Homo sapiens: one gene and its partners. The protein of the gene in region 2 purifies or fractionates together with the protein of the main gene of each other region. This does not show direct contact. Each region holds a gene or a part of one and is shown on either strand. Other genes may lie near its edges. The genes, in order: ZZZ3, AFG3L2, APOOL and SPTLC1.

Region 1 (8,109 bases), on a different chromosome or scaffold from region 2:
GCGATCTCGGCTCACTGCAACCTTTGCCTCCTGGGTTCAAGCGATTCTCCTGCCTCAGCCTCCCGAGTAGCTGGGATTACAGGCATGTGCCACCATGCCCTACTAGTTTTTGTATTTTTAGTAGAGACGGGGTTTCACCATGTTGGCCAGGCTGGTCACGAACTCCTGACCTCAAGTAATCCGTCTGCCTTGGCCTCCCAAAGTACCGGGATTACAGGCATGAGCCACTGCCCCTGGCCAGTTTGTGTTCTTTTAAAACATCATTTGAAGTTTAACTTAAATGTTTTACAATTAAAAGTGGAAAATTATGGGACACTCAGTGTTTGTTACCCATGAAAGAAACAGATTGTAATCTTCATGATAATATATTAGCAAACGATAATTAAATGTCAGCTGTTCTTTTAATGAATCCCCCAAACAATGAAAGTTTACTACTGTAAGAAATGTGTTTCTAAGTTCTGATTTGTGTCTTGTACTTATTGTTCACTTGGTTGCTATGAAATTCTGTAGAACATATAACCATGCTTTAATTCCAGGGCTAGTTTTGTGATTCTTATAAGATTTAAAAAAATTGTTAATTAAAAATTTAAAAGTATGCCATACTTTGAGACAACACTAAACTCAGGCAACTTAAATATTTTACAGGGTACTTTCTCACTTAATTCACTTGTCAGCAGGCAGGAACAGGGAGATTATTTCCTGTAGTGTTTCTTTTTTATATGTGGTAGCATGTTGCTGTGTCTTCTATAATTCTTCCAAACTTTCCACTGTTAGATAGTTCTAGTTGAAGCAAGGAGAAATTGTGTTTGATTTTTAGGGGTAGGAGTCAGAATGGCATTTGGAGGTTTACATGAGAAGGGAGACTGTTGATGACCAAAGGCAGGAGGAAGGGACTGTGAAACTTTGCACTATTGCCACCACTGGCCTCTTTCTCTAACTAATCATCCTGCATCTCATTCAAAGTTAGGAAATAAAATGACAGGGTACCTTGTGAAAACTAAACAGAAGAGGAGTCGGGGAATAGAGACTTCAAATATTAACAGCTCCTTTATTCTGCTTGATGGGAGAGCCTCTGGAAAATATCACCAAATCACTAGTTTACCCAAATGGATCAATCAAGGCATTTTTCTATATCCCTTACATTTCTGTCATATAAACCTCAAGCATCCACACCAGAATACCTGCTCATCTCCCAAACCACACATTAAAACTGGCACTGGCATATGCTATACACAGGAGTTCAAAGAAGGAAAGGGTGGGATTACAGGAGTAGTCTTGATTTCTTAAATGTAAGTATTTGCTTCAGAGGCTTCTTCCCCATTTTCTTTTCTGGTCTTTGGAACACTCCCTTTCACTTGCTAATTTATGGCTTTATTTCTAGAGACTAGGAAGGCTTGGGTTTGCTTTGTTTTGTTCTTAGCCAATGCAAGCTAGCATTGTGATTTTTGTCTATTTAGTTATGAAAAATTATACTGCAATAAAAAATTTTTGGATGCCAGATTATTATTAAGGGATTTGATCTGAAACTCATTTTAGCAAAAGTAAATTAAAAAGAGGAGAGCCTGCCTTTCTGTATACCGGGAACATTTTGAAAGAACACGAGAAATGATTGGAATAGTTTTTTGAAAGATAGCTGCTATATAAGTTCAAGATTATTATTTTATTTATTTTATTTATTTATTTATTTATTTTTTTGAGACAGTCTCACTCTGTCGCCCAAGCTGGAGTGCAGTGGCATGATCTCGGCTCACTGCAAACTCTGCCTCCCGGGTTCAAGTAATTTTCCTGCCTCAGCCTCCTGAGTATCTGGGATTACAGGCGTGTGCCACCACACCTGGCTAATTTTTGTATTTTTAGTAGAGACAGCGTTTCACCATGTTGGTCAGGCTGGTCTTGAACTCCTGACCTCATGATCCTCCCGCCTCAGCCTCCCAAAGTGCTAAGATTACAGGTGTGAGCCACTGCGCCCGGCCGAAGATTATTATTTTAATGACCAAAATGAAATCACATCTTTAGGATAGATCTCTTCTGGGTGTTTTATGCCTGAGAGGCAGATACACAGTGAGGCAGTTATGGTCTCTAGAGCCCTGCCTTGCTACTTACTAGAGTTGTGACCTTGGATAGAATATTCAGAGTGTGCTTTAATCTCATTCGTGAAGTAGGGATGATAGTAGCACCTATCTGAGTTGTTGTGAGACTTAAGTGAGTTAATGTATGTAAGGCATATAGAAAGACTCATGGAACATATTAAGTACTGTATGCTTGTTAGCTATAATTTATATCATTATTGGAAACGTTAAAGAATTTTTATCACATAATTTAATATTGGCAGTTATATAGATAGTTATAGACTGTAATGTCCAAGTATACTTGGATTAAAAAGTTATAGCTTTATACTTTCGTTCTGGGTATATTAACTATTACCTTTTTCTCATTATTTTGTTTACATTTTTGAAGGTTTCCCAATGAGTGGATCATGATGACCGTATTGTAGGGACTTGCCATAGTATGGCTGCTTCCCGATCTACTCGTGTTACAAGATCAACAGTGGGGTTAAACGGCTTGGATGAATCTTTTTGTGGTAGAACTTTAAGGAATCGTAGCATTGCGCATCCTGAAGAAATCTCTTCTAATTCTCAAGTACGATCAAGATCACCAAAGAAGAGACCAGAGCCTGTGCCAATTCAGAAAGGAAATAATAATGGGAGAACCACTGATTTAAAACAGCAGAGTACCCGAGAATCATGGGTAAGCCCTAGGAAAAGAGGACTTTCTTCTTCAGAAAAGGATAACATAGAAAGGCAGGCTATAGAAAATTGTGAGAGAAGGCAAACAGAACCTGTTTCACCAGTTTTAAAAAGAATTAAGCGTTGTCTTAGATCTGAAGCACCAAACAGTTCAGAAGAAGATTCTCCTATAAAATCAGACAAGGAGTCAGTAGAACAGAGGAGTACAGTAGTGGACAATGATGCAGATTTTCAAGGGACTAAACGAGCTTGTCGATGTCTTATACTGGATGATTGTGAGAAAAGGGAAATTAAAAAGGTGAATGTCAGTGAGGAAGGGCCACTTAATTCTGCAGTAGTTGAAGAAATCACAGGCTATTTGGCTGTCAATGGTGTTGATGACAGTGATTCAGCTGTTATAAACTGTGATGACTGTCAGCCTGATGGGAACACTAAACAAAATAGCATTGGTTCCTATGTGTTACAGGAAAAATCAGTAGCTGAAAATGGGGATACGGATACCCAAACTTCAATGTTCCTTGATAGTAGGAAGGAGGACAGTTATATAGACCATAAGGTGCCTTGCACAGATTCACAAGTGCAGGTCAAGTTGGAGGACCACAAAATAGTAACTGCCTGCTTGCCTGTGGAACATGTTAATCAGCTGACTACTGAGCCAGCTACAGGGCCCTTTTCTGAAACTCAGTCATCTTTAAGGGATTCTGAGGAGGAAGTAGATGTGGTGGGAGATAGCAGTGCCTCAAAAGAGCAGTGTAAAGAAAACACCAATAACGAACTGGACACAAGTCTTGAGAGTATGCCAGCCTCCGGAGAACCTGAACCATCTCCTGTTCTAGACTGTGTTTCAGCTCAAATGATGTCTTTATCAGAACCTCAAGAACATCGTTATACTCTGAGAACCTCACCACGAAGGGCAGCCCCTACCAGAGGTAGTCCCACTAAAAACAGTTCTCCTTACAGAGAAAATGGACAATTTGAGGAGAATAATCTTAGTCCTAATGAAACAAATGCAACTGTTAGTGATAATGTAAGTCAATCTCCTACAAATCCTGGTGAAATTTCTCAAAATGAAAAAGGGATATGTTGTGACTCTCAAAATAATGGAAGTGAAGGAGTAAGTAAACCACCCTCAGAGGCAAGACTCAATATTGGACATTTGCCATCTGCCAAAGAGAGTGCCAGTCAGCACATTACAGAAGAGGAAGATGATGATCCTGATGTTTATTACTTTGAATCAGATCATGTGGCACTGAAACACAACAAAGAGTATGTGTAAATATGGTAACCATGAATTCTGCTTTGTTTATTATTCCCCAAGTTTTTCAGTATCTATTCGTAGTGTTTTTATTACAGCCAAAATTAATGTTTTCACTAAAATTTTAGGTTTAATATGATTTTCTCAACTCTTAGAAAAACTCCAAAAAAAGACTTAAACTCAACTTTACACGTGTGTTCTATGACAACATGGTCTTTCCAGTTCTGATATTTCATGTCTCAATTAGAAAAGACATGGTTGGTAGTGTTTTTGTTTTTTTAATATGTTTTATATCATTTTTAGTTAATTTATACAATGGAAACACATTGAGTTACCACAGTATGCTTTGATTTATAGTTCTAGATAGCATAGGACAATTAATGAGTGCTTAGACATCATCCAGATATGTGAAGTCTGGCAGGCTTGACATCTACTTTTATCTTACTTACATTTAATTCCCAATTAAAATTTTTTATTAAAAAATGTGCTTTATGCATCATCTTTGACTTTGACTTAGAGAAGTGGATATTACTATTAACACTATGACAGTATATTGTAATTAGCATATTAGCAAGGGTTAGTCTACTGGATAGTTTACATAAAACATTTGACATAGCTTTTCCTGATACTAAATATAAAGGAAGACTATCTTAAAATATTATCAGCTCTCAACCTTTGCTAAGTCACTGTTGTAAATAAAGAATTCTGTATCCAAATTTTTCACAATATTTCTTGCCTAGATTTCCTATAAAGTATTCAGGGCCATAACACAAAAGATTTGGAGCTTACTATGTCTAGATAATCCTGAAAAGAACTAGAACACACAGTGCTCATCATAAATATCATGATTAGCAACAATAAAAGACAGACTTATGTAATAAGTTAATTACCTTTATTGCTACAGGGTAGGCTTTTGAATTAATATCACAACCAGATTATATAGACTGTACATAAATACTTTGATTTGAGGAACATTTCTAGTGGTTTTGTTGTGACAATTGCCAGACCCTGGTATGTGTCAGATCAAAGTATCAAATCCTGGTTGTGGGACATAATATTTTTTTTGCCATGCATTGTAGATAGTGTAGATTTGTATATGGTAATACAGTGGTCTTTCAGCATAGGCCCCTTCTGAAAAGTTTTCTTCTGCTTTCTTTTGAAATACTATCTTAATATTGTATTTGATAGTTCATGTCATCTGAGCATTTTACAATTTTGTGAAAATGTTAGGAGTCTCGAGTATTTGGAATATTTGAAGTCCAGTTTTAGATAGCAAAACAACTCATAAATGAAGTTTTTTTTGTATTAGAAATAAGTTGAGTTCTGCTGTTCATATATACTGTCAGTTTTTTTGTTTGTTTGTTTGTTTTTGTTTTTCGTTTTTTGAGACAGCATCGCACTTGTTGCCCAGGCTTGAGTACACAGGTGCAATCATGGCTCACTGCAACCTTGACTTCCCTGGGCTCAAGCAATCCTCCCATCTCAGCCTCCCAAGTAGCTGGGACTACAGGCACATGCCACCACTCCTGGCTAATATTTTTTTGTATTTTGTAGAGGCAGGTTTTCACCATGGTGCCCAGGCTCGTCTTAATCTCCTGGGCTCGATTGATCCTCCCACCTCAGCCTCCCAGAGTATTGAGTATAGGCATGAGCCACTGCACCTGGCCTAGTATCAGTTTTTAAAAGTAGACCTGTTTATCTGCAGTGCAGGGAAGGAGAGCGTATGTCTTAGGAAAATACCAAAAACTAAAGAAATGTGAATTTTTATAAAATGATATATGTTAGTTCTGTTCTTTGCTTTTTATTGTTTTAGTCTTGACTCGTTATTGATTGTGGAAATTTTTTTTCTAGTAATTCACTACAGTATTACTTTTTGTAAGAGATTGCCCGATAATAATTCTGAAGGATGATGTTCACATAAAACAGTTACCTAAAGATACAGTCATAACATTGATATTCCACATTCATAACCCTTTGAGGATGAGAACAATACAGCTTAATTGGTGCTTTTATACATTTTATATAGTGTGCTTTTATATGTTTATTTTTCATGTGTTCCTTAAGATATAGAGACTCCTTTGGAATTTGGATGCTAGTTGCTTTGTTAGAACAGTGTTTTCAAATTAATGCCTCATTGGGTGACATTGGGGAAAAAATTACTGATTCTTGCCTTTTTGCCTTGCTCCAGATCTTTTGAAGGATAGCACTTTTTTTGTTTGTTTGTTTTTTGTTTTGGAGACAGAGTCTCACTCTGCCACCCGGGCTGGAGTGCAGTGGCACAGTCGTGGCTCACTGCAGCTTTGACCTACCTCCCAGGCTTAGGTTATCCTCCCACCTCAGCCTCCCAAGTTGCTGCTGGGACTACAGGTGTACGCCATCACACCTGTCTAATTTTTTGTAATTTTAATTGAGACAGGGGTTCGCCATGTTGTCCAGGCTGATCTTGAACTCCTGGGTTCGAGCGATCTGCCCGCCTTGGCCTCCCAAAGTGCTGGGATTACAGGCATGAACCACCTAACCTGGCTAGGATCGCACTTTTGAGACTTTTCTCTTTTTTCTTTTTTTTCAAAGGAAGCAAATCAGAAATGAGATGGAGTATCATGATTAGCATCTCAGAGCTAATTTAAGGAAAATTGGGAGAGGGTGTTTGATCATGTCAGATCTAATCTCTTTCAGTAAAGTCTCTTTCCTCCCCCATACCTTCATTGTCTAGAGCCAAGAGTTGGTTGGATATAATGTTGGCTCTTTTTAATCCAAGTTGCCATCGCTAAAAGTAGCATCATGACACCTGTCTGGTGCTTTCAAGTCTCAAGTAAATTTCTGGCAGTTTGAAAATGATGTTAAAAAGCACTTGGGTTTTAAAAAAAGGCACTTGAAGGAGATGGTTTATTCTCCTCCTGTACACACATATGTACATACCTTGTCAAATGTTACTTCTCTTCCTTATTCTCCCTGTGCTAGAAACGTTCTCCAGGTAATTGCTTTTTGAAACCGAGGTTGAGCATTGCCCAGCCTAAATATGAATATCTCTACCAGTAGGGAATGAATACTTCTTGATAGCCAGTTTTAAAAGTAAGTTGTTAATAGAAAATACTGAGCATGGCATAATTCTTTGTCTAGAGCCAGGAGGACATAACTCTGTGTTATTCTAGTTGAAACTTTTCCTCTAACCTAACAGTGATCAACAGCCTTCTATCCTAGTGTTCAGCTTACAGTTTATCTGTCTTGTGTGCAAAGATATCCCATATAAGGTCATCCGATCACTTGTAAATGTTTGCGAAAGTATTGTGTAGAATCCTAGTCTTAGATGTGATTTATAGTAAATTAGGCATTAGACCAGGGAAACAAATCTGTGGATGTTCTGGGTACTAGCTTGATGCCTCTCTAGATGCCATCCCTCTTCTCTAGCGCATAAATCCACAGTGTGCTTTTATATATTTATTTTTCCAAATGGAGAACCCCACTGTGAGAAAGGGACCAGAGAATATCTTTTTCTCTGGCAAGATTCCATCTGTGGATTATTTTATTAGACATGCCTTCTGAAAGATTAGGGGTGGAGGATCAAAAGAAATATTCTTTATCTGAAGGCTCTTTGATCTTCAGGGTTGATAGAATCTGTTAAAGTGTTAGATAATACAGTACCTAATGATTTCTTTTTAGGCTTAAATAGCCTCACTGAATGAGATTATTTACTTAACTGTGATTGCCCTTTCTGTTTCGGAATTGACCTTGCTAATTTTTGAATCAGGAGCACTGAAACAGATCTCTAAATTTTGAAGGTCTGGCTCTAGGAAGCACAAGTGTGGAAGATTTTAGGTCTTAGGTTTTAATGTTCAGAGCGTTTCTTCCAATTCAAAACGTAATCACTGGAAAATAAACTTCTAAATGAAAATGTGCTTTGGTCAGCTGCCTCTGAATTATCATTGTGCAACATTACTTAAATAAATTTGTGTTTGAAAGACCTTGGGTATCTTCATTTAAGGATCTTTGGTATTATAACATTTCATGAACAGATAAGGGGGTGAAAAGTCAAATTTAGGGATTCTAGATTCTTGAGCTCTTACAAAGATTAACTCATTGATAACAGATTGCTAACATTTATACCAG
Region 2 (8,109 bases):
CTAGAGTTTGAGCCTGTAGTGAGCTGTGATTGTACCACTGCACTCCAGCCTGGGCAACAGGAAGACCTTATCTCAAAAACAACAGCAACAACAAAACAAAACAAAAGTAAGTACTCCCTTTCCCACTCCCACAAAGTATACATTGTTAACACTTTCTTGTGCAGGAAAGCCCATGGTTTTGACAAATGGCTAAAAAAACACACCCACAGTTGGTATTCAGCTGGCATCTTTGCTTTGTAGGGAAATGTATGTAAGGAAAACTGTAAATCAGTCCTTGTTGTTGTTTTAGACGGAGTTTCACTCTGTCTCCCAGAGTGGAGTACAATGGCGTGATCTCAGCTCACTGCAACCTCTGCCTCCCAGGCTGGAGTACAATGGCGTGATCTCAGCTCACTGCAACCTCTGCCTTCCAGGTTCAAGCGATTCTCATGCCTCAGCCTCCCAAGTAGTTGGGATTACAGGAGCACGCCACCATGCCCGGCTAATTTTTGTATTTTTAGTAGAGATAGGGTTTCATCATGTTGGCCAGGCTGGTCTTCAACTCCTGACCTCAGCTGATGCACCCGTTTCGGCCTCCCAAAGTGCTGGGATTACAGGCGTTGAGCCACCGCACCCGGACCGAATACACTTCTAATGTCTTCAGTGACCATGAAGCAACCCCTCTAGTGTAGCAGGATGGGAGGCTACAGGCACCCGGTCATCCTCAGTGGCTATGTAACATGTGGCTTCATGACACATTCACTCCGCTATGCTGCATACGAGGGGCTTCTGCACCTCTGTCTCGAGTGGAGTCTGAGACAGGTATGATATGCACAAGCCTCAGCCCCCAGAATGAGGCCCAGGACTAAAAAACACGCAGTAAGCACACCACTAAAGCTGTGCAACACTCCAAACCACTCAGGGAGAAAGGAATGTCCACACAAAAGCAACCCAAAAGCTTGCATGGGTTATCATTACTCGGCCCCCACACCAAGACTCAAAGACCACCTAGCATGCACTGGGAGAACTGTAGGTACTGCTCCAATCTAGAGCCCCGGGGCTGTCACCAGCCCACACCAGTGCTTCTCCCTCCCCATGTCCCCTGGCTCTTACTCCTTTGCATTCTTTGGGCATATATTTGTCTGTCCAACTAGATGACAAGTACATTTAAAAACGTGGACTCCTCGAGGCCAGGTGCAGTGGTCACGCCTGTAATCCTAGCACTTTGGGAGGCAGAGGCGGGTGGATCACATGAGGTCAGGAGTTCAAGACCAGCTTGGCCAACATGGTGAAACCTCATCTCTTAAAAATTAGCTAGGCATGGTGGCGCATGCCTATAATCCCAGCTACTGTGGAGGCTGAGGCAGGAGAATCACCTGAACCCAAGAGGCAGAGGTTGCAGTGAGATCGTGCCACTGCACTCCAGCCTGGGCGACAGAGACCCCTCCTCAAAAAAAAAAAAAAAGAAACTGAATTACAGTTTTCTTTACATTTCCCTAAAAAAGCAAGGATGGGCCGGGCATGGTGGCTCACGCCTGTAATCCCAGCACTTTGGGAGGCCGAGGCAGGCGGATCACAAGGTCAGGAGATGGAGACCATCCTGGCTAACACAGCGAAACCCCGTCTCTACTAAAAATACAAAAAAAAAAAAATTAGCCAGGCGTGCGCCTTTAGTCCCAGCTACTCAGGAGGCTGAGGCAGGAGAATGGTGCGAACCCAAGAGGCGGAGCTTGCAGTGAGCCAAGATCATGCCACTGCACTCCAGCCTGGACGACAGAGCTAGACTCTGTCTCAAAAAAAAAAAAAAAAAAAAAAAAGCAAGGAAGTCAGTCAAAATGGGCACAGGAGGCCCACTCAGTCCCCCAGCCACCGTGCTCTAAAAAAGTCTCTCCGAATCCCTAAGGTGAGGTAATGCTCTGAGGAGCAATTTTTAAAACACTGCCCTAAACACAATATGTATCAAATAAATTGCATGTATTAGATTTCTACGATTTTTCTCAATGTTTTAAATTATGTGCCAGATATCTACCAAATATGCTTAGTTTGACCAGACAATACCTCTAAGGTAGCCTTAAATTACTTCAATTTGCAAAATGACAGAAAAATATCAACAGAAAATTAAGGTGAAATGTAACATAAGGTCTCTAGAATTTTATATGTACTTGCAACCTACAGCTTCACAACTGACTTACTATAACTTTCTTTTTTTTTTTTTTTTCTTTTTTTTTTGAGACAGGGTCTCTCTGTTGCCCAGGCTGGAGTGCAGTGGCACAATCACAGCTCCCTGCTGGGCTCAGGTGATTCTCCCACCTCAGCCTCCCAGGTAGCTGGGACTACAGGTGTGCACCACCATGTCTAACTAATTTTTTGTATTTTTAGTAGGGACAGAGTTTCACCACATTGCCCAGGCTGGTCTCAACCTCCTGGGCTCAAGTGATCCACCCGCCTAGGCCTCCCAAAAGGCTGGGATTACAGGCGTGAGACACTGTGCCCGGCCTGATAACTCTTTTCTTTGTTCAGTGGAAACTACCACCATTATACATGAGGGGAAAACACAAAATTCAAATATAATATTGTCAAAAGGTACCTTTTTTCTCTCCCATAACTTCTTTAGGTTCACTAGCTTTTTTTCCATTTTTTCCATTAGGAAAGTATTTTTCAAATCCTGTTAGAAAAAGAAAAAAAATACTTATCTTCAAACTAAAATTCATCAGGTTTGTGTTCATTTTGTTTTCAAAGCAGCTGATGCATCACTGAAAAGCACAAGCTGGCCAGGCGCAATGGCTCATGCCTGTAATCCCAGCACTTTGGGAGGCTGAGGTGGGCAGATCACCTGAGGTCAGGAGTTCGAGACCAGCCTGCCCAACATGGCGAAACTCCGACTCTACTAAAAGTACAAAAAATTGGCTGGGTGTGGTGGCAGGTGCCTGTAATCCCAGCTACTCGGGAGGCTGAGGCAGGAGAATCGCTTGAACCCAGAAGGCGGAGGTTGCAGTACGCCAAGATCGCACTAGTGCACTCCAACCTGGGCGACAAGAGCCAAACTCAGTCTCCAAAAAAAAAAAAAAAAGCACAAGCTAAAAGCATAACATTTCTTGTGTACAAGTACATCAAAGTCTAAATAATATAGTTCACAACCCAGAAGTGTTAAAGGAAAAAGCCTCCTTTTTGCATATCAATTTCATTATCTACAAATGTGTTACATTTGAAGATGACATATCTTCATCGCTGTAATCAGACATAAGTTGGAGGCAGGGGAATGGGTTACAGAAGGAGACAAAAGACCCAACCTAAGAATGTAGAACACTACAGCCACACCTAAGCATTTACCTTTTGGGGGTCGAGAACAGAATCTTTGATAAGCAGCAATTATATCTGTCAAAAGAGAATTTCTGCTGGCCCTTGCTTGAGTTGTAACAAATCGGTAAAGCTGCAACAAGACATAAAAATAAAACCATAGTTATATCAAGATAAAAAACTTAAAAGAGCTTCATTTCCTGGTCATAAAGTAGATGAAAGGTCTCTCTCTTCCACAGGTGGTTATGAAGTAACACAGAATGACTCCCTTAGTGAGGACTAGGATTACCTAGCACTAGGCCACTGATTCCAGCAAAAGAACCAGGAGACACACATTATTATCCAGAAAACAAGAATATTTCAAAATCAGACATAATGTAGAATTGCAATCCAATTATAATTATGTGACAACACATTCACTTTGATGATGTTTGTTTAATTTGTAGCATTCAAAAGACAAACCCTGGCCAGGCGCAGTGGCTCACACCTGTAATCCCAGTACATTGGGAGGCCGAGGTGGGTGCATCACGAGGTCAGGAGTTCAAGACCAGCCTGGCCAAGATGGTGAAACCCCGTCTCTACTAAAAATACAAAAATTAGCCAGGCACAGTGGCAGGTGCCTGTAATCCTAGCTACTCGGGAGGCTGAGGCAGGAGTACTGCTTGAACCCAGGCAGCAGAAGTTGCAGTGAGCCGAGATCACGCCACTGCACTCCAGCCTGGGCGATGGAGTGAGACTCCGTCTCAAAAAAATAAAAATAAAATAATAGTTATAAAAATTACAAAACCAAATAAAACCACCTCACATCCACTATAATCAAAAAGACAGACAAGTATGGGTGAGGATGTGAGAAACTGGAGCCCTGTACACTGTGCTGGTGAGAATGTAAAATGGTGTAGCCACTCTGGAAAACAGTTTGACAGAGCTCCAAAATGGTACCACATGACTCTATGGGTCACCATATGACCCAGCAATGCCATCCCTACCCAAGGAAGCTGAAAACACATGTCCACGAAAAATATGCACACAAATGTTCACAGAAGCCTTATTCATAACAGTCAAAAAGTAGGAACAAGCCAAACGTTCACCACCTGATGATGAACAGATAAATAAAATGTGGTATACCCATACAAGAGAATACCAGTCACTCAAACAAAGGAATGAAGTACTGACACGTGGATGAACTCTGAAAACATCATATTAAGTGAAAGAAGGCAGACACAAAAGGTCACATATTATGATTCCATTTATACGAAATGTCTAGAATAGGCAAATCCATAGAGAGATAGACACATTAGTAGTTGCCTAGAGTTGGGGGAATGATTACAGAGAAATGCGAAATGATTACTAATGGTCGCAGGGCTTCTTTCTGGAGTGCTGAAAATGTTCTGGAATTGGAGACAGTGATGATGGTTGCATAACTTTATGAATATGTTAAAAACCAATGAACTGTACATTTAAGATGAACAATGGTTTGTAAATTAAAATGTCAATAAAAAACAAATAAAACAGAATGAGATGATTTAACTTCAAATAAATACAGAATTCCACACAGCAAAACAGGACAGGAACACCAACACTGTTTTTGTCTGAGTGCAATACTGGCCTGGGAGACTTTGGAGCTTATGTTGTGTTACACCCTGCCCAACCACAGGAACACTTGGCCTATGAAATAACCACTGATAACAGATAAGAATGCAACATAAGAGTTTTTTTCCAGTGCCAAATCCATTAAGGGTGTAGATTAAAATGAAATGTTATTCAAGCTAGACAAGTCAACAACTCCAGGCCAGGTGCTGTCAAGCAGTGGGGTGTCCGAAGGGGAATCAGAACCAGTTCCCACCCCTAAGAAGCACAGAAACATAGGGAAGAAAATCATGGGACAAATCAGTTACACTATGGCATAACAATGTAACCAAACAAAAGCTCTGAGTACAGGGAACAGGAGTGGTGCAGAGGTAATATGAAGGGGTCTTTATATTGCCACGTCTTAGTCTTAGTCCTTTCTGTTCCGCTATAACAGAGTGCCTGAAGCTGGGTAATTTACAAAGAAAGGTTTATTTAGCTCACAGTTCTGCAAGAGGGGAAGTATGAGAAACAGGGTGCTGGGCTTATGGTGAGGGTCACATGCTAGGTCAAATTATGGCAGGAGAAGGTGCTACATCAAAACACGGTGGGAGAAGGTCAATGGCAAAGCAGCCACATACCATGAGGGAGGAACTTCTACTTTATAACAACCTAAGGTCTCTGAAATTAAGCCAGTCCCAATACAGCTCACAGAACTCACTACCTCTAGAATGGCACCAAGACACTCATGAGAGCTCCACCCCCATGGCCCAAACACCTCCCACTGGGCCCCACCTCTCAATACCACCACGATGGGGAACAAATTTCAACATGAGTTTTGGTGAGGCCAAACTCAAACCATAGTACCATATAAAGCAAGTCTTTATATCACCATAAAGTTTAGTACAGAACAGGGCACTGTATGCGCTCCATAAATATTGACAGAAAAGCCCTTTTTAGGCTCTATTTTCAAATTGTGTTGACATGGAATATCCCTAGCAATAATCCGTGACTGAATTTAACACTGAGGTTGTGTTCTATGAAGAAATCATCAATGAAACTTCTTCTCCTCTGCATATGTAATCCAAGATCTGCATGTCTAGCATTCAAAGAATAATGTAAGAGATACTAATTCACAAAATTTAAGTTGAGAGCACCGCATTTTGGAGAATTAGCCTTTATGTTTGACAACAGGAGCACTTTTCAGTTGCTTTATCATCAGTCTTATTCCTCTGGGCATCACACCTGAGAACTCATCTCTCAACACATCAGAATCTCTTCCTCACCGTGAAAGCAGTACTTCTGTCTCTGATCTTTAAGGGTAGCAGGAACATAAAGGAAAACCTGTCCTATCAGACTCCCTCACAGCACAGTAATGCCCAGGTGTCACTAGGCAAATCTTCAGAGAGTACCAAAGAGTATGTATCAGGACCGCGAACCCCCACACCCTCCGCAAATCAATCAGCTACAGCTGTCAGCACAGAGGACTTCCTTATACATCAGCATCTGAGTGATACAGGGACAATAGTGTCACTCAAAAGGAAAGCCTTTGGGTAACACTTCTGACATAAAACTGCAAACTCACAATGCAGATCCCCACCTGGAACTGTATGTCTGAATCCAATATTCATGAGCAGCAAAAGAAAAGCAGTCAGGCCGGGCAAGGTGGCTCACGTCTGTAATACTAGCACTTTGGGAGGCCAAATGGATTGCTTGAGGCCAGGAGTTTGAGACCAGCCTGGCCAACAAGGTGAAACACCATCTCTACTAAAAATACAAAATTTAGCCAGGCGTAGTGGCGGGCGCCTGTAATCCCAGCTACTCGGGAGGCTGAGGCAGGAGAATTGCTTGAACCCTGGAGGCGAAGGTTGCAGTGACCCAAAATCACACCACTGCACTCCAGTCTGGGCGACAGAGCGAGACCCTGTCTCAAAAAAAAAAAAAAAAGAAAAGAAAAGAAAAGGGATCAGAGCTTGGTAAAACAGGGAAATGGATACAGGAAACCGAAAAAGGACCTACCACACGGCAGCGTGGCGTGACCATGGCGAAGAAATTGATTTAAGACTGGCAAGGGAGCCTCAAGGAGTAAAAATCATGAATGCAGGCACTATTATTCCCCCTCCCCACCCCCGCTCTTTTTTTTTTTAGGAGACAGAGTCCGTCACCCACGCTGGAGTACAGCAATGCAATCAAAACTCACTGGAGCCTCAACCTCCCGCGCCAAGCAACCCGCCTTGGCCCCCCGAGTTGCTGGGACTATAGTCATAAGTCACTGAGCCCAGGTAAGAAAAAAAAAAAAAAAACAATTTGTAGAGGCCAGGAGCTGTGGCTCAGGTCTGTAATTCCAACACTTTGAGAGGAGGAGGCGGGAGGATCGCCTGGGTCCTGGAGTTCCAGGCCAGCCTGGGCAACTGGGCAAGATGGTGAACCCTATCTTTTGGGACGGAGTCTCGCTCTGTCGCCCAGGCTAGAGTGCAGTGGCCCGCTCTTGGCTCACTGCCAGCTCCACCGCCCAGGTTCACGCCATTCCCCTGCCTCAGTCTCCCGAGCAGCTGGGACTACAGGCGCCCGCCACCACGCCCGGCTAATTTTTTGTATTTTTAGTAGAGATGGGGTTTCACCGTGTTAGCCAGGATGATCTCGATTTTCTGACCTCGTGATCCACCCGCCTGCTGGGATTACAGCCGTGAGCTACCGCGCCTGGCCTCTCCAGAAACTTTTTAAAAATCAACCACGGTGCTGTAGTCCCAGATACTCCGGAGGCTGAGGCGGGAGGATCGCTTGAGTTTGGGGCTGCAGTGAGCTGTGTTTGCGCCGCTGCACTCCGGCCTGGGCGAAGAAGCAAAACCCCGTCTCTTAAAAAATAAAAATAAAAATAAAAATCGTAGATCGGAGGGTCTGCTACCCTACCCAAGCTGGTTTCCAACTCCTGGAGTCAAGCGATTCTCCCGCCTCGGCCTCCCTAAGTGCTGGGATCGCAGGCGTGAGCCCCGGCACTAGCCTATCTCCCCTTACAGTGAAGACGTTGAGCTGACTACAAGGGCGCTGGGATAGCAGGAGGCCAAGCCAGGTTCCCGTGGCCGACCCGGGGACCTCAACCACCACCCGTACACCAGTGCAAGGCTGAGGAACCGTGTCACTTAAACAGTGAGAGCGACTATTCGACACGTGAACCTTTCATTGAGACTGATCACGGCCATGGTTCTGTCAACACTCTATCATTATGTCAGAAACACGTATCAGGTCCCGTGTGTGTATCTAGAGGGA
Region 3 (8,109 bases), on a different chromosome or scaffold from region 2:
ATTCTCCAAGACAGACCACATGATAGGACACAAAACACTTCTGAATAAATTTAAGAAAATCAAAATCATATTAAGCATCTTTTCAGACCACTGTAGAATAAAACTGAAATAACTCCAAAGGGAACCCTCAAAACTATACAAATACATGTAAATTAAATAATCTACTAATGAATGATCTTTGGGCCAACAATGAAATTAAGATGGAAATTTAAAAAGTCTTTGACCTGAATAACAGTAACACAACTTATCAAAACCTCTGGGATACAGCAAAAGTAGTGCTAAGAGGAAAGTTCATGGTATTAAATGCCTACATCAAGAAGTGTGAAAGAGCCCAAATATTGACAATCAAATATCACACCTCTAGGAACTGGAGAAACAAGGTCAAACTAAACCTAAAGCTAGAAGAAAAGAAATAACAAAATCAGAGCAGGACCAAATAAAATTGAAACAAAAAAATACAAGAGATAAATAAAACAAGGATCTGTTTATTTGAAACGATTAAGAAAACTGATTGACCATTAGAGAGATTAAAGAAGAGAGAATATCCAAATCAGCTCACGTAGAAATGAAAAGGGAGATATTACAACTGATACCATAGAAATGCAAAAGATCATTGAAGGCTACTAAGAACACCTTTGTGCACACAAACTAGAAAACCTAGCATAGATGGATACATTCCCAGAAATACACAATCCTCCTAGATTAAATAAGGAAGAAACAGAAACTGAACAGACCAATAGCGAAATCGAAACAGTAATTTAAAAATTGCCAACAAAAACAGATTCCAGGACCAGATGGATTCACAGCTAAGCTGTATCAGACACTCAAAGAAGAATTGGTACCAATCCTACTGAAACTATTACAAAAAATAAAGAAAGAGGGAGTCCTCCCTAGATCATTCTATGAAGCCAGTATTACCCAAATACCAAAACCAGGAAAGGACATACAAAAAAAAGAAAACTACAGACCAATATCCCTGATGAACACAGATGCAAAAATCCTCAACAAAATACTAGCTAACTGAATCCAAACAGCATATCAAAAAGATGAGCAAGTGGGTTTCATACCAGGGAGGCAGGGATGGTTTAACATACACAGGTCAATAAACGTGATACATCACATAAACGGAATTAAAACTAAAAATCATAAGATCATAAGATCACCTCAACAGAAGCAGAAAAAGCATTTGAAAAACTCCTGGCTCCCTTCATGATAAAAACCTTCTGCAAAACTGGCATAGAAGGGACAGATCTCAAGGTAATAAAAGCCATTTATGACAAACCCACAGCCAATACCATACTAAATGGGGAAAAACTGAAAGCATTCCAATGAGACCTGAAACAACACAAGGATAACCACTGTCACCACTTCTATTCAACATGATACTGGAAGTCCTAGCCAAAGAAATCAGACAAGAGAAAGAAATAAAGGGCACCCAAATCAGAAAAGAGGAAGTCAAACCACTGCTGTTCACCAATGATATGATAGTATACCTAGAAAAGTCTAAGAACTCATCCAAAAAGCTCCTAGATCTAACAAATGATTCAGTAAAGTCTCAGGTTACAAAATCAATGTACACAAATCAGTAGGACTGCTATACACCAACAACGATCAAGCTGAGAATCAAATCAATAATTCAATCCCTTTTACGACAGCTGCAAAACAGAAACAAAAAAATAAACAAACAAAAAAACTTCAGGAGGTGGAAGATCTCTACAAGAAAACTATAAAACACTACTGAAAGAAATTATAGATGACACAAACAAATGGAATCATATCCCATGCTCATGGATGGGTACAATCAATATTGTGAAAATGACCATACTGCCAAAAGTGATCTACGGATTCAATACAATTCACATCAAAATATCATCATCATTCTCCACAGAACTAGAAGAAAACAATCCTTAAATTCATATGGAACCAAAAAAGAGCCCACATAGCTGAAGTAATACTAAGCAAAAAGAACAAATCTGAAGGCATCGTATTACCCAACTTCAAACTATACTACAAACTAGGCTACAGTTACCAAAACATGGTACTGGTATAAAAGTAGGCACGTAGACCAATGGAACACAGTAGAGAACCAAGAAATAAAGCCAAATACTTACAGCCAATTGATCTTAGGCAAAGCAAATAAAAACAGAGTGGGAAAAGCACACACACCCTGTTCAACAAATCATGTTGGAATAACTGGCAAGCCACATGTAGAAGAATTAAACTGGATCCTTATCTCTCACCTTATACAAAAATCAACTCAACATGGATCAAAGACTTAAATCTAAGACCTGAAACCATAAAAATTCCAGAAGATAACATCAGAAAAACTCTTCTAGACATTGGCTTAGGCAAAGAGTAGTTCATGACCAAGAACCCAAAAGCAAATTCAACAAAAACAAAAATAAATAGATGGGACTTAATTAAACTAAAAAGTTTCTACACAGCAAACAAAATAGCAGAGAAAACAGACAACCAACAGAGTGGGAGAAAATACTCATAAACTATGCATCTGACAAAGGACTAATATCCAGTATCTACAAGGAACTCAAACAAATCAAGAAAAGAACAAATAATTTGCATCAAAAAGTAGGTGAAGGTCATGAATAGACAATTCTCAAAATATGCAAATGTCCAACAAACATATGAAAAAATGCTTAACATCACTAATTATCTGGGAAATGGAAATTAAAACCACAATACGATACCATCTCACTCCTGCAAGAATGGCCATAATTAAAAATAAAAAAATAATAGATGTTGGTGTGGATGTGGTGAAAAGGGAACACTTTTACACTGCTGGTGAGAATGTAAGCTAGTACAACCACTATGGAAAACAGTATGGAGATTCATTAAAGAACTAAAAGTAGAACTACTATTTGATCCAGCAACCCCACTACTGGGTATTTACCCAAAGAAAAAAAGTCATTATATAAAAAAGTCACTTGCACATGCATGTTTACAGCAGCACAATTTACAATTGTGAAAATATGTAACCAACCCAAATGCCCATCAACCAATGAGTGGATCAAGAAAATGTGGTATGTATACAACATGGAATAGTACTCAGACATAAAAAGGAAGAAAATAATGGCATTTGCAGCAACCCAGATGAAGTTGGAGAACATTATTCCAAGTGAAGTAACTCAGGTATTGAAAACCAACTATCATGTTTTCACTAATAAGTGGGGGCTAAGCTATCAGGATGCAAAGGCATAAAATTAAGATAATGCACTTTGGGGACTTGGGAATACTGGGAGGGGGTAAGGGACAAAATACTGCACACTGGAGACAGTGTAAACTGCTCAGGTGACAGGTGCACCAAAATCTCAGAAATCACCACTAAAGAACTCACCCATTTAACCTAAAACCACCTGTTCCTGAAAATCTATTAAAATTTTTTTTAAATGGGCAAAATATCTGAACAGATACTTCATCAAAGATACACAGATGACAAATAAGCGTATGAAAAGATGCTTAACAGCATATCATTGGAGAATTACAAATTAAAACAACAATGATATACCACTGTATACCTACTAGCAGGGTGAAAATCTGAAACATTGACGACGGTAAATGCTGGGGAGAACATGGAGAAACAGGAAGTCTCATTCATTGCTAGTAGGAATGCAAAATGATACAGCCACTTAGAAGGGTAGCTTGACAGCACTATTCACAATAGCAAAGATATGGAATCAACCCAAATGTTCACCAATAACAGATTGGATTAAAAAAATTGGTACATATACACCATGGAATACTATGCAGCCATAAAAAGAAATGAGATCATGTCTTTTGCATGAACATGGATGGAGCTGTAGGCTATTATCCTTAGCAAGTAAACGCAGGAACAGAAAACCAAATACCACATGTTCTTACTTATAAGTGGGAGCTAAATGATGAGAACTTAAATGATGAGAACTTACAAACACAAAGAAGGAAACCACAGACACCTGAGGGTAATGGGTGGGAGCAAGGAGAGGAGCAGAAAAGACAACTACTGGGTAATGAGCTTAACAGCTGGGTGATGAAATAATCTGCACAACAAATGCCCATGATACGAGTTTACCTGTGTAACAAATCTTCACATGTACACCTGAACCTAAAATAGAAGTTGAAAAAAAAAGTAAATAAATAAATAAAAGTAAAAGGCTCATTCACCATGATCAGTAAGTTTTATCCCAGAGATGCAAGGATGGTTCAACATATCCAAATCAATAAACATGATACACCACATTAATAGAATGAAAGACAAAAACAACATGATCATTTCAATGAATGTGGAAAAAGCATTTGGCAAAATTCAACATCCTTTTGTGATAAAAACTCTCAACAAATTAATTATCCAAGATATGTACCTCAACATAATAAAAGCCATATATGATAAGGCCACAACTAATATCATACCCAATGGTGAAAAGCTAAAAGCTTTTCCTCTAAGATCAGGAACAAGTCTCTTGCCACTTTTATTTAACATAGCACTGGAAGTTCTAGTCAAAGCAATCAGGCAAGAGAAAGAAATGAAAGACATACAAATTGGAAAAGAAGAAGTAAAATTGTCTCTTCTCCCAGATTACATGATATTATACATAGAAGATCTTAAATACGCCACCAAAAAACTGTTAGAACTAATAAATAAACTCAGGGAACTGCAGCATACAAAGTCAACATACAAAAAAGCAGTTACATTTCTATACACTATCGAAGATGATCTACCCAAAAAAGAAAGAAAGAAAGCAATCCCATTTAAAATAGCATCAGAAAGAATAAAACACTTAAGAATAAACTTAACCCAAGAGGTCAAAGAGCTGTATATTGAAAACTATCAAACCATAATGGAAAAAATTGAAGATACAAATGAATGGCAAGATATCCTATGTTCATGAATTGGAAGAATTAATGTTGTTAAAATATCCATACTACCCAAAGCAATCCACAGATTCAATTCTAGTGGCATTTTTCACAGACATAGAAAAAATAAACAATTGCAAAATTTGTATGGAATCACAAAAGACTCTGAATAGCCAAAGTAGGTGTACAACCAAAGCAAATGAAATCAGCAATTGCAAAGATATCTGCACTCCCATATTCACTGCAGTATTATTCACAACAGCCAAAACATGAAAACAACCTAAGTGTCTAATCGAAGTGTCTGCCAACAGATCAACGGATGAAGAAACTGTGGTATACACACACACACACACACACACACACACACACACACACAACGGGTTATCATTCAACCATAAAAAAAAGAAAGAAATCCTGTCATTTACAACAACATGGATAACCCTCAAGGGTATTATGCTGAGTGAAGTAAGTCAGACAGAGAAAGACAAACTGCCTGATTTTATTTGTACGTGGAATTTTGAGAAGTTGAACTCACTGAACTAGAGAATAGAATGCTGGTTCCCACAGGCAAAGGTAAAGGAAAGGCGAGAGGTTGGGAGGTTGGCCAAAGGGCACAAACTTTCAATGACAGGTAAGTTCAAGGGATATAATACACAGCATGGTGAAGTGATACATATAAACTAATTTGATTCTGGTAATCATTCCACAAAATATATGTATATCAAATCATCACACTGCACACCTTAAAATCAAACCATTTTATTTATCAGTTATACCTCAATAAAGCTGGGGAAAAAAAGAAAAAAAAATACATAAACCCAGAGGGTCTTATAGCTACCTATTCCCTGGGGACATCTTGAATTTACCATTCCCTAGAACGTCTTAATAGCTAAAATCATAAATTCAGCAAGTTTTTCTCTGAGTGCAACCTCCTATCATTACAGTTTCGATTTCCTTACTGATCTATTTCAGTTCTTACAGGTAAAGTTACCTACCTTAGAAGACTTTTAGTGAGAATTAAATGAAATAATGAGTATCAACAGCTTAGCGCAGTACCTGATACACAGTAAGTCCTCAATAAATCATAGACAAATTTTGATTTTAAGTATGCATTAAAAACAAATTATCTGCCAATACCCAAATTGTCTTCAAACTCACTCTCAACCTCTGGCATTAAATGAAACTTGGCTTTTATTTGACACTACTATTATACATTCCTCCCAATCCACTTAATTGAAGGCCAGACCCCCAGGAATTCCCCGATTCCAGAAGACCCGAGAGATCAGCACAGTCCTTGCTTCTCAAGCACCATGATCTCCACAAATCTTAGCCATTTCTAACACAGTTACCCTACTTTGCAATTATTAGAAATCGTTTCACCTTCAAGATCCTAAATGCTTGAAATTTCCCTCATTAAAATAGAATGCTCTTTCAACTCTCCTACTCTTTTTGAACTAGTTCTTCTTTCTCACTATGGCCATAAATCTTCTAGTACCCTAGTCCATCACTTCAATCTTCTTCTTTGTCTCCTTATCCACAGTGGATGACTATTTGGATAAATTCCCTAGATCTTCTATCATTCTCACTTTGACAACACTCAGCATTGGAGCAACCCCACTGTCTCCTCTTCCCCTCCTATGCTGTGAGCACTGCTGGAGAAAGTCACTACTAGAGCCAACATTAGCCAGGCCCTCACTTCTCAGCAATTATTAATATTTTATTCAATGTCTACTGATACTTTACTGAATTTCCTAAAGCACCTTTTCCAAGCCTATCCCATTCTTAAACTCCTAAAGGCATATTTTCCTCTCAGCAGATGACCTTCCACCCAGAAGATACAGACCTCCAATGTGAGCTCCCTCCTCTACCTCCTCCGTTCTTCAAAATCACTTGGTATCTTCACCTTCTATCTCGACCAACTCTGGCCTTTGAAGCAAAGTGTGTCTCCTCTTTGCAAGGTTAATCCCTCCACTTGTTCTCTTGATTTTACCACTTTCTTACAAAGTATGGTTAAGAGTCCAGGTTCAGGACTCATACCATGTGATTTCAGATCCAGCTCTACCACTTTACTCCTGTGTGACCTTGGAGTTACTTGACCTTTTTAAGCTTCTGTTTCCCTACCTGTAAAAAGTGATTAATATAAATTCCTACTCATAGGGCCAATGTGAAACATAAATGAGAGAATCCACATAAAGTGCTTAGCAAAATTCCTAGCACGTAGTCAATATTCAATAACACAATAGCTGTAAATACTATTATCTTTCCCTCTAGATACCTCCTGGTACATTTTCCCTTGTCTCCAAAGTAGCTCAAGTCTTCTGTCTCCTGTTTTGTTTTTAGTTTTTTTTTTTTTTAATTAAAAGACACCTTTTCTGGAATTTGCTACCCTCATTCCAAGATTTTGTTCCTTCTTTTCACCACCAAACTTCTCTAAAGAGTAATGTATAACTCCTTTCCAGAGGAAGCAAGGAGGAGTGGAAAGACTTTGGAGATAAATATACTGTTTGAACCTAGTTCTTCCACTTAGTGGTTGTATGACCTGGAGCAAGCAGTTTTTCTAAGCCTCCGTTTTTCCATCTGTAAAATGGATATATTACCCATTTCTTAGGGTCATCAAGAGGATTAAACTAAAATAATATATGTAAATCATCTGGCCAAAGTGGGTGCTAAATGAATGCCAGTTCTCCATCCCTTATTCTTTTCTTAACCCCATACAATCTTGGTTGTTCCTCTACCACTCTATTTATCTCTTTAGCTCACTTCAGCTCTTATTAGCATGGTTTTGAATAATCTGACTTCTCTAAACCTTAATTTTCATGTGTAAAATGGTAATAATACCCACCACATAAAGTTGTCTTGAGAATTAGTGAATTAACACATGTAACGTGTTTTAGCATAGTGCCTGGCCTGGAGTAAGCACTTAATAAATGATAACAGCAGCAACTTATTAATGGTGAAATCAAAGGACTGTTCAACTCTCTTCTTCTCAATGAAAACACACTATTCTGGTTTGCTTTTTGCCACTGACCATTCCTTCTGTCTCTGCACCTTCTCCATGAAGCCTCTTTTTACTCTCTTCAAACCAAGTGTGAGCTCTCTCCTTTTGAGCGTCAGAGCACTTTGTACTTCTCTTCAGGTAAGAAACTCCCCTTACTCTGAATCACAGTCATTTGTGTTATATGTGTTATATCTCCACCACTTAATCTCTTCTGTCCTCATTGCCTGGCACTTTATTCATGTAGAACATGTTGACTACCTAAT
Region 4 (8,109 bases), on a different chromosome or scaffold from region 2:
AAAACCAAAAGCTAAATGTAAGAAGCTGAAGAAGAGTAAGAACACAGTGCAATGAGACAGTGCATAAAAATAAGAAAACACACTATGATGAAAACACACAAAACCAAATTTACATAAATAAAAAGTTAAAATAATATAGATATATGAGAGATAATCAACAACTATTCCCAAACCAAAGGCCCCAAGCCTAGATGGCTGTAAAGTGGGAGACCTACTCTCAACTTCTGAAGAAACGATCAAGCCTTGTTTTACTCAGTGCTTCCATGAAGCAGAAAGAGTGGAAAATAGCCAAATCATCTACCGAAGCTACCCTAACACTGACTCCTATGTTACGTAAAGTTGGTACAAGGTTATAGATCCATTTAAATTATAAACAGATATAAAAAGTCAAATTAAAATATTAGCTAAATAAATCTAACAGTGTAGAAAAAGATATTATAATGAAGTAACGGTTTTCTCAAGAATGCAAGGATGGTTTAACATCAGAAAATATTTCAATGTAATTCAGCCATAAGACAAATTTATGATTTACCTTAATAGATGTAAAAAAAATGGATAAAGTTCAACGTCTATTTATGATTTTAAAAAAAGGCCTTCAAATTTAGGAATCATTTAGCCAGGTGCAGAGGTACATGCCTGTAGTCCCAACTAGTTGGAAGGTGAAGGCAGGAGGATTGGTTGAGTCCAGGAGTTTGAGGCTATAGTGTGTTGACTATATCTGTGAATAGCCACTGCACTCCAGCCTGGGCAACATAGCACAATCCTGTCTCTTAAAAAAACCACAAAACAAAACAAAACTAGGAATAATTCAATAAAAGCTACTCACCAAAAACCCATAGCATGATGTTTTATACTTAATGAAGAAGTGCTTCTATACTGGGAATAAGGAAGGAATGTTTGCTATTATTGCCACTGTTCAATACAAATTAGGGACTCAGACCAAAGCAATAAAATAAGAAAATGAACTAAGACGCAAAAGCATTAGGAAGGAAAGAGAGAACACCATTATTGCAGATAACAGGACTTCCATGCACATCATCATAACACAATGAAACAATTACTGGAAATACTAAGAGTTTAGAAAGACTCCTGGATATAAGGTCAGTTTAGAGAAAATAATAATATTCTTATGAATCAGCAATAATCAAGTAGAAAATATAACAGAAAAGACAACCCCATTCATAACAGCAACAAAATCTATAGGATGTCTGAAAATTCCCTTTAAAGGTTCCATAAAGGTACAAGGGCTTTATAGGAATTCCATTAAAGGACACAAAGGGAGATTTAAATAGAGAGCTCATGTTCATGGATGACATTTCCCTCCACATTCATCAGAAAATTTAATGCAGTTCCAATTAAGATTCTAGCAATAATTTTGGAGAAACCCATATTCCAAAACAGTGATAAAAACAGACACTAGTGATAAACCTGTATTCCAAAACAGTGATAAAAACAGACAAAATCAAAAGAGTCTGAGGAATGAGCAAATATACCAATGGAATGGAAGAGACAGTTTAAAAACAGATCTAGGTACAAATGGGAACCTGGTATATGATACAGTACTGTCAACCAGTAGGAGAAAGGATGTTTTATACTTAGCCAGATGTTATTCAGAAATTGATCTCAGTAATCTTAAACTGAAATATTCTTCTCTTGACCAATTTCTTTCTCCAGCCACCATCTTGTTTCTTAGTCCCTCTTCAGAGAAAAACTCCTCAAAACAGTCATCTAGGCCGTGTCCACCTGTCTGGAACCTCCTTCAAGCAGGCATTTTACCCCACACTCCCCTGAAACTACTCACCAAGTCATAATACCTCTACATAACGAAGTCAAAGGATCAGTGTTCTGTTATCTGGTCTGGCCTGTCAGCAGCGGCATGTCACAGGCTGACCTCCTACATAAGCAATTTCTTCCCTGGTTTCCAGGACTCTAGGCTCTTCCAGCCTGCCTCTTCCTCACTGGCCACTCTTTCTCAGACTAGTCTTTGCTAGTTTCTGACCTCTTCACACTGAAATGCTTCATATAATATCCATACCCCAAGACTCAAACATTTATCTCTAGCTCAGTACTCTCCCTCACACTTCAGACTTGTATATCCAGCTGCTGCTCTGCACTCCATGTCTGATGGGCACTTTGGGCTTAACATAACCACTGCTGACCTTCCCCAGAAGGTATTTCTCCACAGTTCTGTCCCTCTCACTCATTAGCAACTCTACCTATTTACTCTGACCAAACCCCCTGAGCTCTACCTGGAGTCTTCTCTTTCTCACTCACCCTGCATATGAACTTCTGCTAGATCCAGTGTGCTCTCCCTTCAGAAGATACCCAGAATCCAGACACTTCGCAGGTCATGGCTCCCAACATGGTCAGAGTCACTATCACCTTTCACCTGCGTCAATCTCCTAACTGGTCTCCCTGCTTCTGTTCTTACTGCTGTTCAATGTATTTTTTCACACCATGCAAAAGTAATTTTGCTAGGGTATCAGATAGGCTGTTTCACTTTTTTGCTCAAAACCATGCCAGGGCTTCCTCTGTGTGCCAATGTCCTCATCACGGCTCACAAGTCCCTGTGTGCGGATGGCCCATGACCCAGCCCTCATCTTCCACCAGATTTCCCACTCCTTTCCTCCTGTCACATTGGCCTCTTTGCTATTTTGTTTACTGTTCTCTGTAACCATCTAGATACCAGCACGGTTTGCCCCTGCGACCCTTATGAATGTGTGTTTACTGTGAGGTGCCATGGAGTCTTCCAACTGTGGATACTGAGTAGGCAACTGGGTGTGAGACCTGCAGCTGCAGTGGTCCAGGGTGGTGATACGAAGCTGGGAGCTGTCTCTATACAGGTGTCATGAAACGATGTGGAGCTCCAGGTGTGGGAGAAGGCAATTCTTCAAGAAGGTAATGAGAAGAAAAGAGAAGCACAGACAAAGCCTTGAAGAGCAAGGTGTTGAAAGAAAGCCTTCAGAGGAGACCGAGATGGAGCCATTCAAAGATGTAAAAGGAAATCCAGGCGTGCAGTGTAGCAGAGTCCAAAGAAGGAAAGAGTGGTCACCTGTGCTGAAAACTATGGGGACATCAAGAAGATGAGCTCTGAAGATGGTCCACTGGATTCAGCAGTCAGTGGAGACCTCCACAAAAACAGTCCAGGCGAAGGGCAGTAGCAGAAGCCAGGTCTCAGAGCTGCCAGTGTAAGTGAAGACGTGGAGATGATAGCTACTGAGAGGAGCAAAGACATGGGGAGTTGCAGAGGGAAACGTCAGGTGACAGGCAAGAGGAATTTAAAGTGGACATGACTGCTAATCAAATAACACAAGAAAGGGGACAGGCTGATGACAAAGTAGCAGGGACAAGCAAAGGCACTCAGTCCTTAAAAAAAGGGCCTGTGGTAGTTGGAGCAACATTTACTGGTCTACAGGAGGGAAGACTGGTTCAGATACCCACAGGTGTGTAGATTTGTCAGGAAATATGACAGAGTCCCAAGTGACAGCATAAGGCCAGGCTGTTAGCTAAAAGTGAGGGGAGTGAAGACAGAGGATTAGGAATTTTGGAAAGAAAAAGTGTGATACAGCTGGGGTAAGTGGAGATTAGACTTAGAAAAAGGCAGGTTAACACCATAGAGTGAAAGGCATGTAAGGCTAGCACTGATGCATTTCCAGTGACTCCAATATGCTAGGCTGTGTTGGCATATTAATATTTCACAAACCAATGGAACTGGAACCAATACAAATATATCTCTCTACCATAAATCATGCAAGAACTGCTGTTACTATCACACAGACACACCCAGAACTTTAATGTCTCTGCCCCTTCTTTATCTGGAACAGCTGTGATGTACTCATTTATCAATTGTCCTTTTCTTTCAGTTAAGTCTCCAGTTTCCATATCCGGAACACAGATAGGACTTTCATGACCAAGAAAGCATGTTTAACCTTAGGAAAGGCAAAAAGAAAGACCTCGGGCAATGTGAAATCACTTTATATAAGACCAGAAATGTGCCTGGAGATATCACCAACCTCCATTTTTTTTTTTTTTTAACTACAGAGGAATCTTAAAGAGTGACTCTTCTAGATGACAAGTTAGTGGGTGCAGCACACCAGCATGGCACATGTATACATATGTAACTAACCTCACAATGTGCATATGTACCCTAAAACTTAAAGTATAATAAAAAAAAAAAAAGTGACTCTTGTGTAGTAAAAAAAAAAAAAAAAAAAAAAAAAAAACACTGATAAAATTTCACTTGTTTCTTTTTCTTGTGTTAAAACTTAGTAATTTATTAAAAAGTAACACAGATGGTATGAACCCAGTCATCTAATTACATAATATATAATGGCATCCCTGTGTGTGCAGACATGGAGAGATGCTTCAGTGTTTACCCTGGTTATTTCTGGTGGTAAGATGTTGGGTTGTTATTTTCATCTTTCTATCTTCTGTACTGCTGTAATATTTTATTAATGAGTTTGTTTCATTTTCAGAAAAACAAAGTCACGATTCTTTAAAACAGATGATCTGGTTTTACACAAATAAACCAATGTGAGTGAACTAAGTTTTTGGTTTCTTAGCTGCAATCTGGTCAAACTGACCCAAGCCTAGAAATTTAAAACTTTCCATTAGTTGTTAAGTGTGGTGCAGATAAACTTTATGTTGGTTGAAAATATATAAAACTCACCCTTGTAAAGCTTTATGAATTTGTCCGCACTTTTCCTTCAACACTGCAAAAATACCTAGATGAAAAAAATACGTTTGAGAGTCTATTTGAAACTTATGATAGTACTAACCTAAAAATATTTTTGAAGACCCAGATCAAGTTCATCAATTTAAAATGCTACAAATCCTTCTACATACTAACAGAGCCAAGAACCCATACTCCCCTGAAGGCCCAAGCTTTGTCTCTGGTGCGTGCTAACTGGCCCCTTCTCACCTCAGTATCCCACTTTCAACAAACCTGGAATGATGCTTTCAAGAACAATCAATGCCTCTTGTTCTCATCAAGATCCTAATCTGGCTAAGAATCAAAGGGTACAAATTTATTGCTTATTTCTTTATCCTAAACAATTTGGTAAAAAATCAACTATAGTAAAGTAATTTTTACAATCTTTTCTTGATATTTTCCTTTTTTATTCAAGGAAAATCCCAAAACTAAAGTATCTGATCAGAAGGTAGGCGTGCCAGGCCATCTGAGAAGCAAGCATATGAATGAGCACAGAGACACACATTTTCTGGTTCTCTGAATTAGTATCAGTGATGAAGATTCAGAAATACTGTACCGGGTAGGGCCTGCTGCTCCCTTTCCGTTTTAAGCTTTGCAAAGGTGGCACTGTCATAGCCAAAGGCCACATTTTAAATTCTTAGTAGACTTTTTATTTTTCCCACTGAGTAAGTTCTTTGCTGGTAAACCCGGCTTGGCCTCAGTACCAACTGATGATTCAAAGGCTAAAGGTGAAAACTCACAATATTTATAAAATTGCACAGATAAAAAAGCAGCATGCTTCAGCTGATTTCTCAAAAAACTATTAACCAAATAAAGACTGGCTTATTTACACCAATGGAACGTTTAGGCCCAGAACTGGCTGAGAGCCCCTCGTCCTCCCAGCATCTCCACCCACTATCTGAGCTAGCCTTGCTTTGGCTCTGGCTCTGGCCCCAAGCACAGGAGAAAAGCTCTGACCCCAAGTCCTTGGGGCAGGAATAGCTTCTTCACTGCCATTCTTCCTATGAATGCCATATAATGTAACTGCAAACCAGTTTTGTCTGGCAAATAATTTCTCCAGTAAGTAAATCAGTAACACAACTAACGTAACCTGAAATCTCTTTGATTCCTTGGGTTTTTAAAGGGTTATACCTGGATTCTCTTCCATGATGTTGAGGGCCTCAATTGCTGCAGCAGCTAACAGGGGAGGTAACGAAGCTGAAAAGCAGTATCCCTGGCCGGAAAGTCGCTGAGAAGAAACAAATGAAGACATATACACATTCTCTGTCCTTTCTAGGTAAACATTTGAAAGGCACCAGTTCTCTAGAACAACTACTGAACAGTGTGTACATGTGGTGAGGGGGGTAAGATCCAGCCATAAATAAACATTATACGTGTAACAGCAACAAGACTTTTTGTTAAATGTGAGATCATTTCTAAATAGAAATATTTTGAGTGATTCTTTAAAAATTGACATTTAAATAAAAATTGTGTGATAAACTAAGTAAAATTTCGTATTTCAAAATTATATTTTGAGGTGACCAATGGAGAAATTAGTTTCAGTTTTAGCTCCTGTTTTTAAAAAGAACCCACCTGATGGTCAATTACAAAAGACCTGCCACAGCAGAAACCTCCAATAGAAGCAAGTGCATTCTCCATGTTGGCACTGATAAGATCAATATCATCAATCTGCCGGAAAAGGAGGAGTGACAGTTATTCCACAGTTTAAAGAAAAAAAAGGCCAACTTCAAGCCTAGAGACAAAATTTAACAGCATTAAACTGTCTGTTAATATCTGGATTCAAACTACCTATCTACATGAAAATAAAAAATAAACCATATAACATCTATCGCTGAATGAACTGTAGTCTCATGGCCCATCTGAAACTGTCTCATTTTATACATTTTTACCATTTCATTATACATGACAAATTAACTCACAGCAAAGACAAATAAATTATAAGAAAATAAAACCCAAAGCTGTTCGATATTAAAAGTAGTCACAGGTACAAAATAAGACTATTTCCTCGCTAAAACAGTGGTCTAGCTGGCCTTCCTCATGGGATGCACTGAGATAAATAAAAAGTCTATCGAAGTTTTGAGCACTTTATTCTTGTATTCAGTTTGCCTCTCAGCATTTCATAAGTCAATTTATCCAAACGTCATGGCGATGGAATCTTTGACCAACTGGACAGCAGAAGAACCTAATGTGCTCTAAAATGACCTAATGGGCTTTGAGTCCTACATCTTTCTGACCACTCAGAACTCCTTCGGTCCTCATCTTTGGGTCCAGCCCTCAGCACCAAGTTCCATTCTGGGCACACAGTAGGCATTCAATCATTACTTACTGATGGCCATGTTAATGGATTGTCAGAACACAGCTAGTGTTTTCCTTAGTGTTTCATAGATCCAGCAGAGTTTTGAGAAACTCTGCACTCCTGCCCTTTTTAAAAAGCATGTTTAAACCTTTCATTATGAAAAATTTCAAGCCTGAACAAAGTAGAACAGAACAAAGAATCCCCATCACCCAGATTCAAACATTATCAACTCAAGGACAACCTTGCTTCACCTATATCCCCTACCACCCTCATCATTTCTTTGTAGTGAGTCCCAGACTTCATGGGGTTTCATCTATAAACATTGCACTGTGTATTTCTAAAAGATAAAAACTCTCTCAAAACATAATCACAAAACTAGTATCATACTTAAGACATTAACAATTTTTAAATGTTAAGTTTAAATTTGATGTTAAATATATTCAAATATTCAGTGTTCAGATATCTCTGATTGTCTCACCAAATTTTCTTTTAACAGCATTTGTTTGAATCAGGATCCAAATAAAGCCCGTACATTCTGCTCTCTACTCTCAGGCGCTTGTGAGTATTTCCTCACAGTATTTCCCAAAGTGACAACTGCTGGAAGCATTCACAAAACTACAACAGTGAAGTTCAAGTTTTTTCCTCCATAAAAATTTTCATGCCTTAAAAAAGGCTGTAGTGTACTGCTAAATCTGCTTGAATTACACTTCCATTTATCTTTCCATTTATTCCATTTACCTCCTCGGTGCATGTAACTGCTGAATGTCAGTCTGCCTTGGAGGAGGTGCTTCCATCCAACCTCCCGGGATATTCACTCTGCTTTACATTTTTCTCTGGGACTATATGGTTAGCGGGATGTCGATAATGTAAGGCAATTTTACGTTTTATAGTTCAACTCTGTAACACAGGTTGCACAGCTCTTATGCGCATGTTTTGGAGAAAAAGCTTTCTGTAACTCTTCCCATGGTGGTTGGTAAGACAGCTGTTCAAGACTGGCTGACTTCCTCTGCCCTGAGGCTCCAGGAGCAAAACCCACTAGGCACTGCGGGCAGTCTGGGTCCATTTCCCTCAGAAAAGGAAACATGACACCTCATTCTGTTTG

Evidence for each region.
Region 1: the proteins of AFG3L2 (region 2) and ZZZ3 purify together in Homo sapiens (affinity purification with mass spectrometry; one large-scale study listed by BioGRID and IntAct). This does not show direct contact.
Region 3: the proteins of AFG3L2 (region 2) and APOOL purify together in Homo sapiens (affinity purification with mass spectrometry; one large-scale study listed by BioGRID and IntAct). This does not show direct contact.
Region 4: the proteins of AFG3L2 (region 2) and SPTLC1 purify together in Homo sapiens (affinity purification with mass spectrometry, with the first as the bait; one large-scale study listed by BioGRID). This does not show direct contact.

What each region holds. Positions count from the first base shown.
Region 1 is NC_000001.11:77,627,754-77,635,862, reverse strand, and holds part of ZZZ3 (ZZ-type zinc finger-containing protein 3), read left to right. Parts: intron 1-2,457; 5' UTR 2,458-2,508; coding exon 2,509-4,013; exon of another isoform or gene 4,014-4,028; intron 4,029-8,109.
Region 2 is NC_000018.10:12,368,283-12,376,391, forward strand, and holds part of AFG3L2 (mitochondrial inner membrane m-AAA protease component AFG3L2), read right to left. Parts: intron 3,410-8,109; coding exon 3,310-3,409; intron 2,645-3,309; coding exon 2,567-2,644; intron 1-2,566. UniProt on the Homo sapiens protein: Catalytic component of the m-AAA protease, a protease that plays a key role in proteostasis of inner mitochondrial membrane proteins, and which is essential for axonal and neuron development.
Region 3 is NC_000023.11:85,005,651-85,013,759, reverse strand, and holds part of APOOL (MICOS complex subunit MIC27 precursor), read right to left. Parts: intron 1-8,109. UniProt on the Homo sapiens protein: Component of the MICOS complex, a large protein complex of the mitochondrial inner membrane that plays crucial roles in the maintenance of crista junctions, inner membrane architecture, and formation of contact sites to the outer membrane.
Region 4 is NC_000009.12:92,041,330-92,049,438, forward strand, and holds part of SPTLC1 (serine palmitoyltransferase 1), read right to left. Parts: intron 6,380-8,109; coding exon 6,284-6,379; intron 5,940-6,283; coding exon 5,843-5,939; intron 4,725-5,842; coding exon 4,670-4,724; intron 1-4,669. UniProt on the Homo sapiens protein: Component of the serine palmitoyltransferase multisubunit enzyme (SPT) that catalyzes the initial and rate-limiting step in sphingolipid biosynthesis by condensing L-serine and activated acyl-CoA (most commonly palmitoyl-CoA) to form long-chain bases.